3 linked regions of the Homo sapiens genome follow. The protein of the gene in region 1 purifies or fractionates together with the protein of each later gene. This does not show direct contact. Each region holds a gene or a part of one and is shown in the gene's direction. Other genes may lie near its edges.

Region 1 (3,656 bases):
GATGAGGACTGACCTAACAGCATGGAACCAGAATGGGGCAAAGTTGACTTTCAGCTGATAGGGCTTTTGGCAAGAACTCTGATTTCAGCTGCCAGTGACAAATCGGTATGTTTCAACGGGATGAAGGAAAGGGATCATTCCAGATCTAAGCAAATCTCCGGCATTTTTCTGCATTTGTGGATTGTTGTTTTGAAGCTAGTTTTTAAAGCTGTATCCCTTTCTACTTATCTAGTGTGTCCTGCACTTCCTGACCCTGAGGCCCACCTCACATCCTCTCACTTGCCTTTTATTTCCACTTCCTGCAGGTGATCTGAGGTGCCTCATCTCAACCTCACTGTAGAAATCTCTTAATTTCCACCTCAGGGCGTCTCTGAAATCACAGCCACTTAGTCCTGGAGCACATGCAGACATGGAGTGAGGGAGTTAACCCTTCCTAGGGCAACGTTTGACCTTTGTAGTATGGGAGCAGGTAGCTGGGTCCTCCATCCCTGGGATGAAGATTTCCGAGGCTAGTCCCAGTGGGATCAACCCCTGTGTCCACAGTGGAAACCAGCTCAGAATGCACCCTTCAATCGGTGTTCCTCCCTTTCACTCTCCCAGCCCACCACTCCTGTTCTCTGGAAGTACTTGCCAAAATAATCCTCCTTCCAGCAGGCATCTTAGTCTCTGATATCTGGAGAGAGCCAAGGCTTAAACACCTACTTGCAATTTTGTTTACTGGAGATTGTTTAATTTACAAATCAGTTATTTCGTTAGTGACTCCGATGAAGAGTCAAAACAAATCCAAAAACCAGGTATCAATTTACTGAGAGACCTTTCAAAGAAGGCAAGTGCAATGCCAAGGTACACAGAGGTATACTGAGAGACTAGCCGAGCAGACATAAAAGAGAAAAGCAATTCAAGGACCAAAACCAGTGAATTTTTAGCTAAACCCAATATGAATAGATTGTTTTCATTTTAATTTTTTTCTATTTTCTCCAACATCTTTTGCTTGATCTCTTTCTCATTTCTTTCTCTTTTTTTCCCCTCTGACTTCTGAATATATTAAGTAAACATTGCATTGCTTGGGGTTGAAAACTACCTGCTCTTTCATAAATGAGGTGCTAGAAAAATTATTATAGAATCCAAATATGGGAGAGAATAGTTTAAGCTACTTATGAGTATTTTATACATTTTTTTTCCTAAGACAGGGTAGGAATTTTTTCAACTGAAAACAATGAACTCATAGAAAATATTAATTGGGCTGGGCGCAGTGGCTCATGCCTGTAATCCCAGCACTTTGGGAGGCCAAGGCAGGCAAATCACCTGAGGTCAAGAGTTCGAGACCAGCCTGATCAACATGGAGAAACCCTGTCTGTACTAAAAATACAAAATTAGCCAGGCGTGGCGGCGCATGCCTGTAATCCCAGCAACTTGGGAGGCTGAGGCAGGAGAATCGCTTGAACCCGGGAGGCGGAGGCTGTGGTGAGCCAAGATCGCACCATTGCACTCCAGCCTGGGCAATAAGAGCGAAAACTCTGTCTCAAAAAAAAAAAAAATTAAATAAATAAAATATTAATCAGAGTATACAAGTAAATATTAATAAAATAAATTTAATTTTGGTGTTTGGGCTTTTACAGAGAGAAATATAAAAATGATGGCACATTTTCCATCTTTATTTATAGAAAAAAATACTTTTTATAAATAAGATTCCCATTCATTCAACAGATATTTAATCAAGTGCATTGATTTTGAGGATATTGCTGTTAAAATGTTTGAATTCTGACTTTTCCTTTTCACAACTCTAAAGAAAATACCAACAAATAGCTCTTGCTCTTGGGGCTGGGTAGACTTAATCCAAGATTCCGAGCCATTTAGTAAGTTTCTCACCCAGGCTTGAAAACATAATTACTTGAGTTATTTCATACTAACTTCTGTGAATGAGTGCTCTGATGAGCTTCCTTTTCTGGGAGGCTCAGGTAGGAGGATTGCTTGAACCCAGGAATTCCACTCTGTAGTGAGCTGTGATTGTGCCACTGCACTCCAGCCTGAGCAACAGAGCGAGACCCCAGCTCAAAAATAAATAATAAATAAATAAATAAATGGCTTTCTTTTCATTTAGAGAACACACACAAACTAGATTCATCAAAGAAACATTATTTTGTCAGGTTTATAGAGTGTTAAGCAGAAACAGTCCGCGCTTTCACAGAGCTTGTATAAAACTAGGTTTGCATTAGAATTATGTACTATTTTTCTACCTTTTCACTATTACATTTTTCATACCAGCCACCTCCCATCATGAAGATGTTTTTAAAAAATGGAAAAGTATAATGGCTTAAACTATTACAGGATTTAAGAAAATCAGAAAATAGCATGAATACTGGGAAAACCAGGAAGAGTTGAAACTTAGAGAAAACATTGAGGAATGGAGGACCTCGGTTGGAGTGGAGTGAAAACTCTGATTTTGGCTTTATTCTCAAAGCACATGCTAAGCTGTTGGCAGGACATTTTTCTCACCAAAATCTCTTGGGGATTGAGTAAAGGTTTTTTCATTCATGGAGGTACACGAGTGTCAAAAAAGCACATATTTGCAGAAGTTTCTTTTTGTGGTCAGGAAATTAGGTAGGACCAGCAACAGTGAAAACATAGCTCTTGGTTTAGTACTCAGGTTGCCTTGAGCAAGCCCCAAATTACAGCAAAAAGGAGTTGATTGGAAAGGGAAGGGGAAGGCAGGCCTGGGGTGCTTACGATGAGAAATGCCAAGGTTTTGGAGAAGAAGAAAAAGCTAAAATCATGCTTTGTGGGTAGAAAGAAAAGAGAAGAGACACACCTTCCTTTTTTCTTTTATGGTTCCTGTTTATGACTCTGCTTTTTATTCCAGCAGCCACACTTCCTCATTTCCCTACAACGCTCCCTGGAGTCGAGGGTGGAAGGGAATGTGTGAGAAAAGCTGGGGATATATGGTCAAAAATGGATTTGGAAAACACATTTATTGCCTTTGGGTGGAGAAGGGAAGTTTCTGTGGGTGCTGCCTACAATTGTCAAATTGTGGCCAAATGGCTCCATTAACAATCAGACAATTATTTGTCACCCGCAGTTTATTGGCAAATTATTTGACACCTCCCTATTTCTTAATGCCATTACTTCCGATTAACGATTGTGAAGGCCTGCCATGATGGTCATTGTACTCAGAAGTCAATTGACTTAGGCCTACTCAGATCATTCCTTAAGCGTTTAATCAGGATTAGTTTCTAAGCCTGACTAAGCCCCAGCCTATCACCGAGCCCCGGGAGCACGGTGCCATGATGCTCTAGTATTAAGACTCTACTTTTAGTGCATATTTGATAGACAGTCTTTTTTTTTTTTTTTTTTGGCTACGTAGTATTTCATTGTGTATATGTACCACAATTTCTTTATCCAGTTTACCACTGATGGGCATTTAGGTTGATTCTGTGTCTTTGCTATTGTGAATAATGCTGCAATGAACATACGTATGCAAGTGTCTTTATGATAGAACAATTTATATTCCTTTGGGTATATGCCCAGTAATGGGATTACTGGGTTGAATGGTATTTCTGTTTTTAACTTTTATTTTAAGTTCAGGGATACATGTGCGGGTTTACTGTATAGGTAAATGTGTGTCACAGGAGTCATTGTATGAATTATTTCATCACCCA
Region 2 (3,656 bases), about 13 Mb from region 1:
TCTGAGGCGTTACCCCCCAAAGTGATTTTAGAAGAGGGGCAGCTCAGTTTTCCTCTTTGTAAGGCAGGGGACAAATGGGGAAAAAAGTTCTCAAAATAAAAAAGAGAAATATGGTAGTTTTAAGATGAGGATAAGCTAGGCAGCATTTTCAGGGGCACCTGTAGCCATCGTGGTTGAAGGATTTGAATTGGGAAAGTTCCTTTGGGTTTTTCCAAAAGGTGCTGTTACCTTGTATAGATATCCACCTATCTATTCACATGGACCAGCAAACGGGACTTCTCTCTCTATCGATATAAATGTCTAGAATGAACACTGGATGCATAAAATAAACTGATCTGTTCAGACAACTATTTTCAAATAGTTTTTTTTTGCATCTTTCTTAGAAGAACTGTTTTGTTAATGCTAAGAGGTAAATGCTGCTTATTATAACCTATAATCACAGCTCTGCTTTGTAGAAAAATCAACTTTCTGCAACTCATAGATCTTGCTGAAACACTGTTCTTGTGATTTTAGTACAACTTTTACTTTCTTTTATAAAGTATAAAATCTCACACTGAAGACAACAGTAGCCCTTGTGTTTGCTAGTATGGGATTGTCCACTAAGGGACAGCTAAAAGAACTGAAATAGTTAATGCTTGGAGATCTGAGAGTGGCAACTGTGGATGTGATTCTTTTAAGGTAAAATCAACAGGCACTTACTTTATGTCAAAAGAAAAATTAGGCATATCCAGTTCATTCTTCTCTCAGTGCCTAGGATTTAATAGATTGGAATACATTTCAAAAATAAAGAATTGCTTGAACTGGGTAACTGATTTGATGTAAATGCCAAAGGAGAAGGAGTAAAAGGAAAATGACATAGAGTCTGAGCTAGAGTAACAGGGACAGTATTAATTAATATTAACCAAATATCAAATAAGAACATTTAAGAGACGAGGCCAGGCGTGGTGGCTCACGCCTGTAATCTCAGCACTTTGGGAGGCCGAGGTGGGTGGATCACGAGGTCAGGAGTTCAAGACCAGCCTGGCCAAGATGGTGAAACCCTGTCTCTACTAAAAATACAAAAATTAGCCAGGTGTGGTGGCGGGTGCCTGTAATCCCAGCTACCTGGGACACTGAGGCAGAGAATTGCTTGAACCCAGTAGGCGGAGGTTGCAGTAAGCCGAGATCATGTCACTGCACTCCAGCCTGGGAAACAGAGTGAGACTCTGTCTCAAAAAAAAAAAAAAAAAAAAAAAAACATTTAAGAGAGAAAAAGACTCTCGGGGAAATTGGATGAGTTTGTGAAGTCCCAGATGTCCCGACACACTGAATTGGGAATATCACAGGCATTTAGATACAGAGCCTAGAGAGAGAGATTAGGCCCAGAGATTCTGATCCTCTAGAGGGCATTTAGAATATAATCTTAAAGTGGCATGGGGGAAGAAAAAAAAGCAGGGGTGCTACAGCAAAGACACTATCAGATGACAGATGTAGGAGAGTGGTCATGTCAAGAAGCAAAAGGAGATGATTTTGAAGGATGTAGCAGGTAATCAACAGTACCACGTGCTATGGAAAGATTGGGAATAATTCCATTATGAATTGAAATCACTCAAGGAAAGAATGTGGCAATCCTATCACATTCTTTTAATCTCCAAAGGGCTTGTAATTTTATTAAGTTTACACACAGTAAACTATGGAGCAGAACGTATATGTGTGTTCCATTTCTAATATTTACAAGGTGCTCTTTGTAAGTCACTGATTATAGACCAACAGAAGAATTCTTAACAGTTCTAGAACCAAGAAGATTAACATCATGTTTATTCCATATTTTAAAATTCATTGTCTGCATTCTGCTCTTGGAGTAGCTGAAACAGAAAAAGAGACAGCAGAGCACCTAGATCTGGCTGGTGCTTCTTCTCGGCCAAAAGATTCACAGAGGAACAGTCCCTTCCAGATACCGCCTCCATCTCCAGATTCCAAAAAGAAATCCAGAGGTATCATGAAACTCTTTGGAAAGTAAGTAAAGCAGTAAACAAGTGGAATGGGCCCTGTCTTACATGTTGCTTAAAAGTGGCTGGACATGGGTATGGACTTTGTAAGGCCTTTGTATTCCTCTTATGGAAGGAAGTTTGGATTGTGATGTGGGATTTATTAACTCATTGGGTCTTAGTTAAAGTTTAAATTTAAATGTCTATGTTAACAACACAAAGAGGATTAGTTCCAGTAGGTGCACTAGTTAAAAATGTTCTGATTAACAAGTCTAAGGCCTCCTCAGGTCTAATACTGGCCATGTGTGTTGTCTTCTTTAGACTTAGGAGAAGTCAATCAACTACATTCAACCCAGATGACATGTCTGAGCCTGAATTCAAAAGAGGAGGGACAAGGGCAACCGCGGGGCCCCGATTAGGTTGGTCTCGAGACTTGGGACAGTCTAACAGGTAAGAAGAGCCAACTGATAGACTTTTGCATCTCTACCAAGCATCATAGCCTCATGAGTCCTGCAGTATTAGTACTGTCATTGGGTTAAACAAAGTCATTGCTTAATGCTGTGCCTAATGAAAGGGGCCATCATCTTTAGAGCCGTGCAATTTGTCAATGGTTGATGAACAAACAGAAGGTGAGGGCTGTGCGAACTAGGGGAGAGGCCAGAGCTAAAGTGTCAGCAGCATCTGTGTTAGAATGGCTCTCAGACTTAAATTTTACGTAGATGGTAATTACAAGTACTCTAAAGCATAACTTTGGAAAGATGGGATAGCATAGTGGTTAAGAGTATGTTCTAGAATCAGACCACTTGGATTTGCTTTCTGGCCTTACCACTTTCTACCAGCTGGGTGACCTTGAGCAACAGCTTCCACACCCTGTGCCTCAGTCTCCTCATCATCATAATTAGTACCTACCCCAAAAGCTGACCATGAAGGTTAAATAAGTTAATATGTGTTAAATATTTGGCAGATAATAACTACTCAAGAAACATTAGCATGTAACAGAATCTATGAAAGCACTTAAAGACAAAAATGCTATCAGAATCCTTGTATTTATCAGGACTATATAATATTTTATCCATTAAGATTCTAAGAACTGCTCTGACACTCTTAACCAAAGTTTAGGGCTGGCTTAGAACTACTACATTGACTCACTGTGCATAAGAGGGTGGGGTTGGCAAACATAAAGTACAAGACATTGATACCAAATCTTTTAACAGTATAATAGACTGACTAGAAACCCTTTACATATAGCCCCTCCCATACAGGTGGAACACTGGACATAGGTTACATCAAGGAGGAAACTCTCTTTGGCCTTCTTCAAATACCAAACAGTTTCATTTGCCATATGTTGTCTTTGAACACAGTAGAGCTCCTTGTACTATTTAAAAAAAACCATTCATCTTCCCCTCCGCACCCTGCCCCCACCCCGGAACAAGAACACTATTTGTGTATCTAAGTAAAAGAAAACAGGAATTTTGCTTTGATTGTTTCCTACACTCAGTGACAACATATTGCCCTCTTCTCATTGGTTACCATATGGAAAGAAACCATAATTCTGCTAAAGTTAGTTCAAATTAGACTTAAGTTTCTTTCAGTCCAACTGAGTTTCCTGTTTGGGAATCCAATCTTCAAACAACATTGGTTAAAACTGATACAGTGACTTGTGTTTGTCCAATTTGGTCTTTTTCTGTA
Region 3 (3,656 bases), on another chromosome or scaffold:
GCCTCAGATGAATTCTTGGCATTTTTCCATACCCTTATTTGGTTTTCACCTTATTTAGGTGACTTTTTAAATTATATTGTTGTGGGACTATGTCTCCTAGTTTTTAATGACTAAATTTGTATTTCTGTATTTCTTGTTCTCCTTGTTTGGAGGTAAGTTTTATGAGGAAGAGACAGTGACATATTCATCTACCATTTTAAGAAAGCTACCTTATTCTTTTAAATGGCTGCACAGTATCCCTTTGTATGGATATATCATAATCAATTTAACTGGCATCTTTTTGGTGGACTATTGGATTCTTTATCGTCGTTTACGATAGGCAGCACTAAAACATCCTTAAACATATATTTTTACACTATTCTTTGTATGTTTTGCATGCATGTTTCTTTGCATGTTTTTTTTTTCCTTAGAGACAGGGTCTTGCTCTATCACCCAGGCTGAAGTGCAGTGGCATGTTCATGGCTCACTGCAGCTTTGACCTCCTGGTCTCAAGGGATCCTCTCATCTCAGCCTCCCAAGTAGCTGAGGCTACAGACATGAGCCACCATGCCTGGCTAATTTTTTTATTTTCTGTAGAGATGGGGGTCTCACTATGTTGCCCAGGATGGGCAACTTCTAGCCTCAAGAGATCCTCCTGCCTTGGCCTCCCAAAGTCCTGGGATTATAGGCATGAACCACCATGCTTGGCCTCTTTGTACATTTCTTAGGGTAATTTCTTAGAAGCAAAATTCCTGCCAATACAGCTGCTAATTATTATTTTACATTCTGATAGCCCTTCAAAAGGGCTAACTGTGGACAAGAGTTTCTGCTTCTCAACATCTTCACCAATGCTAGTTTTTTCAACACGTTCTTATGATAATTATCAAAGATACGGAAAAGTTGAAAGAATGTTACAGTGAATACCATGTACCCAGCACTTAGATTTGACAATTGAAATTTTAACTATTCTTGCTTTATTAGATACCTGTTCAATCTGTATTTAACAATGAACTAGCATCTTTCTTGTGTGTATGAACCATTTAAAAACTGCCTTGTGTTCATTTTCCTTTTGGATGATAGTTGTTTTTCATACTGATTTCTAGAAACTCTTTTTGGTTTTTTGTTGTTTTTTTTTGTTTGTTTGTTGGTTTTGAGACAAAGTCTCACTCAGTCACCCAGGCTGGAATGCAGTGGTGCGATCTTGGCTCACTGCAGCCTCTGCCTCCTGGATTCAAGCAGTTCTACAACCTCAGCCTCCCGAGTAGCTGGGATTACAGGCATGCACCACCACCACACCTGGCTAATTTTTGTATTTTTAGTAGAGATGGGGTTTCACCATGTTGGCCAGGCTGGTCTCGAACTCCTGACCTCGGGGGATCTGCCCACCTTGGCCTCCCAAAGTGCTGGGATTACAGGCTTGAGCCACCGCGCCTGGCCAGAAACTCTTTGATTAATGAATAAATTCGTCCTTTATCTGTCATGAGTTGCAAATATGTCCCAGCTTGTTTATCTCTTGATTTTGTCTGAGGCATATTTTTCTTGTAGGCACTGATACCTGTAGGTCTGTCAGAGAATTCTCACTTACTCATATGTATCTGTCTTTTCTGCCATTTCTTTCTAATATCACAAGTATCTGTGACATTTCATCACAGATTTAAAACACAGCATGCTTGTATAAGAAAGAATCTGTTCTTATTAGATTGGAATATGTGGTAATTATTGTGTTGTTGAAGCCTTAATATTGATAAGTAATGTTTCCTAAAGACTTTCTTCATGAGACCATTTTATGGATGCCTGAACAGTCAGTATTTTTTATTCTGAAAGATGCAATATGATAAATAGGAAAGTACTGAATTTTCCACTAATTATGTTAATTTTACTTATATAAACCTCTGTTTCTTTACCAGTAAAATAAAAAAACCAAGGCATTATAAAAGTTCCAAAATCTTTTGGAACTTTTATAATATAACTATATATTTTTCCTAATATCTTAGTGTTTCATAGCGCTTTGTACTTTTTAGATGACATTTATTTAATTCACTTCATCTGCCATATATACAAGTATATAGGGCAGGCGTTATTCCATTTTTAATAGGTTAGGAAGCCACACTGGGAAATCAAGTTATTTTGCTAAGGTTAATGACAGAATAGGAACTAGAACCCAACACTCGTTTCTGTATATTAGCTGCTTATAAGTGGTTTACTGTCTAAATTTACAGGATAGGACCTGATCTGCATAGCAGAATAATCTGGACAATTAAGATATTACTCATTTTAATAACATTTGCTACTTTTGAAAAGTAACCACCCAAGCTGATTGGTTAAGGGTTACTTTTGCATGCATACATGTTTGTGTGTGTGTATGTGATATATAGAGAGAAGCTACATTTGAAAATTAATTTCAGACTTAATTATTTCAACAAAGAATAGAGAAAGTCATTTCCTGCTTTCTAAAATGTGCATTATATTAGGGCCAGCTAGGCTATGGCATCAAATAATTCCAAATATATATTTGCTCAATATAATAGATGTTTATTTCAAGTGTTCAGGGCACTCTTTACTCTGTCATTCTGAGCCATGATCCAGCCTGAAATGAGCTCTACCATTTTCAACACATGGCTTCCAAGACTACTGGGAGTTCTTTCCATTTCAGTAGGCCAGAAGGAAGAAAGAGTATGGAAGAGCGTGTGACTTGCCTGACCGTAGAACACATTATTTTGACTTGAGTTTTGTTAGCCAGAGATCAGTTACATGGCCATATCTAAGTGCACAGGATGCTAGGAAACAATTCAGTGTGTGCCCAGAAAAAGAGGAAGAGCAGCTTTGAGGGAGCCACTAGCAGTCTACGTTGTGTACTTATTGCTTTAAGGTTTTCTTAAGGGTGGAAAAAAACAGGATTTTTATATGCTAGCATTGTAACTTATAATAATATTCTTCCCAATTTAGGAATCACACTGTCAGAGTACTTCCGTGACATGGGCTATCATGTCAGTATGATGGCTGACTCTACCTCTAGATGGGCTGAGGCCCTTAGAGAAATCTCTGGTCGTTTAGCTGAAATGCCTGCAGGTAAGTCTGTGTATTGCTTATCATGTAAACAAGACTGATGGGATTTTCGGGGCTGGCTTAGAAACTCTGTTTTAAAATTTCTTTTCATTTTTCAGATAGTGGATATCCAGCCTATCTTGGTGCCCGTCTGGCCTCGTTTTATGAACGAGCAGGCAGGGTGAAATGTCTTGGAAATCCTGAAAGAGAAGGGAGTGTCAGCATTGTAGGAGCGTAAGCACCCACACTATTTACTTTGCAAAAGGAAAAAAGTCACAGATGTATTAAAGAGAGAAAAAAAGTCACTTATTTTAAAGAGAGAATATTTAGCTCCCGCTGGGAGCAGCGGTTCTTAAGGAGGGTTGCACTCCAGAGTCACCTAAGGAGCTCTTTGAAGATGCACATGTTTAGGCAATTTCTACATGTCCTGGTTCCATAGGTTTGACTTTAATTTATATATTTATATGTTTAATTTAGATATTTATTTAATTTTTATAATTTAGAAAATTATAGACATAATAAGGTGAGATTGCATCACGGTAAAAAGAAAGTGAAGATTCGTGATCACTACATAAAGCCATACTTTTTTCTTAGAGCGTTTCCTCCTTGCTTCATCTATTTGATTAGAATAA

What was found.
Region 2: the proteins of PLBD1 (region 1) and PPFIBP1 purify together in Homo sapiens (affinity purification with mass spectrometry; one large-scale study listed by BioGRID and IntAct). This does not show direct contact.
Region 3: the proteins of PLBD1 (region 1) and ATP6V1A purify together in Homo sapiens (co-immunoprecipitation; one large-scale study listed by IntAct). This does not show direct contact.

Annotation. Positions count from the first base shown.
Region 1 is NC_000012.12:14,557,745-14,561,400, reverse strand, and holds part of PLBD1 (phospholipase B-like 1 precursor), read left to right. Parts: intron 1-3,656. UniProt on the Homo sapiens protein: In view of the small size of the putative binding pocket, it has been proposed that it may act as an amidase or a peptidase.
Region 2 is NC_000012.12:27,677,645-27,681,300, forward strand, and holds part of PPFIBP1 (liprin-beta-1), read left to right. Parts: intron 1-1,844; coding exon 1,845-1,995; intron 1,996-2,288; coding exon 2,289-2,417; intron 2,418-3,656. UniProt on the Homo sapiens protein: May regulate the disassembly of focal adhesions. Did not bind receptor-like tyrosine phosphatases type 2A.
Region 3 is NC_000003.12:113,791,947-113,795,602, forward strand, and holds part of ATP6V1A (V-type proton ATPase catalytic subunit A), read left to right. Parts: intron 1-2,925; coding exon 2,926-3,048; intron 3,049-3,143; coding exon 3,144-3,258; intron 3,259-3,656. UniProt on the Homo sapiens protein: Catalytic subunit of the V1 complex of vacuolar(H+)-ATPase (V-ATPase), a multisubunit enzyme composed of a peripheral complex (V1) that hydrolyzes ATP and a membrane integral complex (V0) that translocates protons.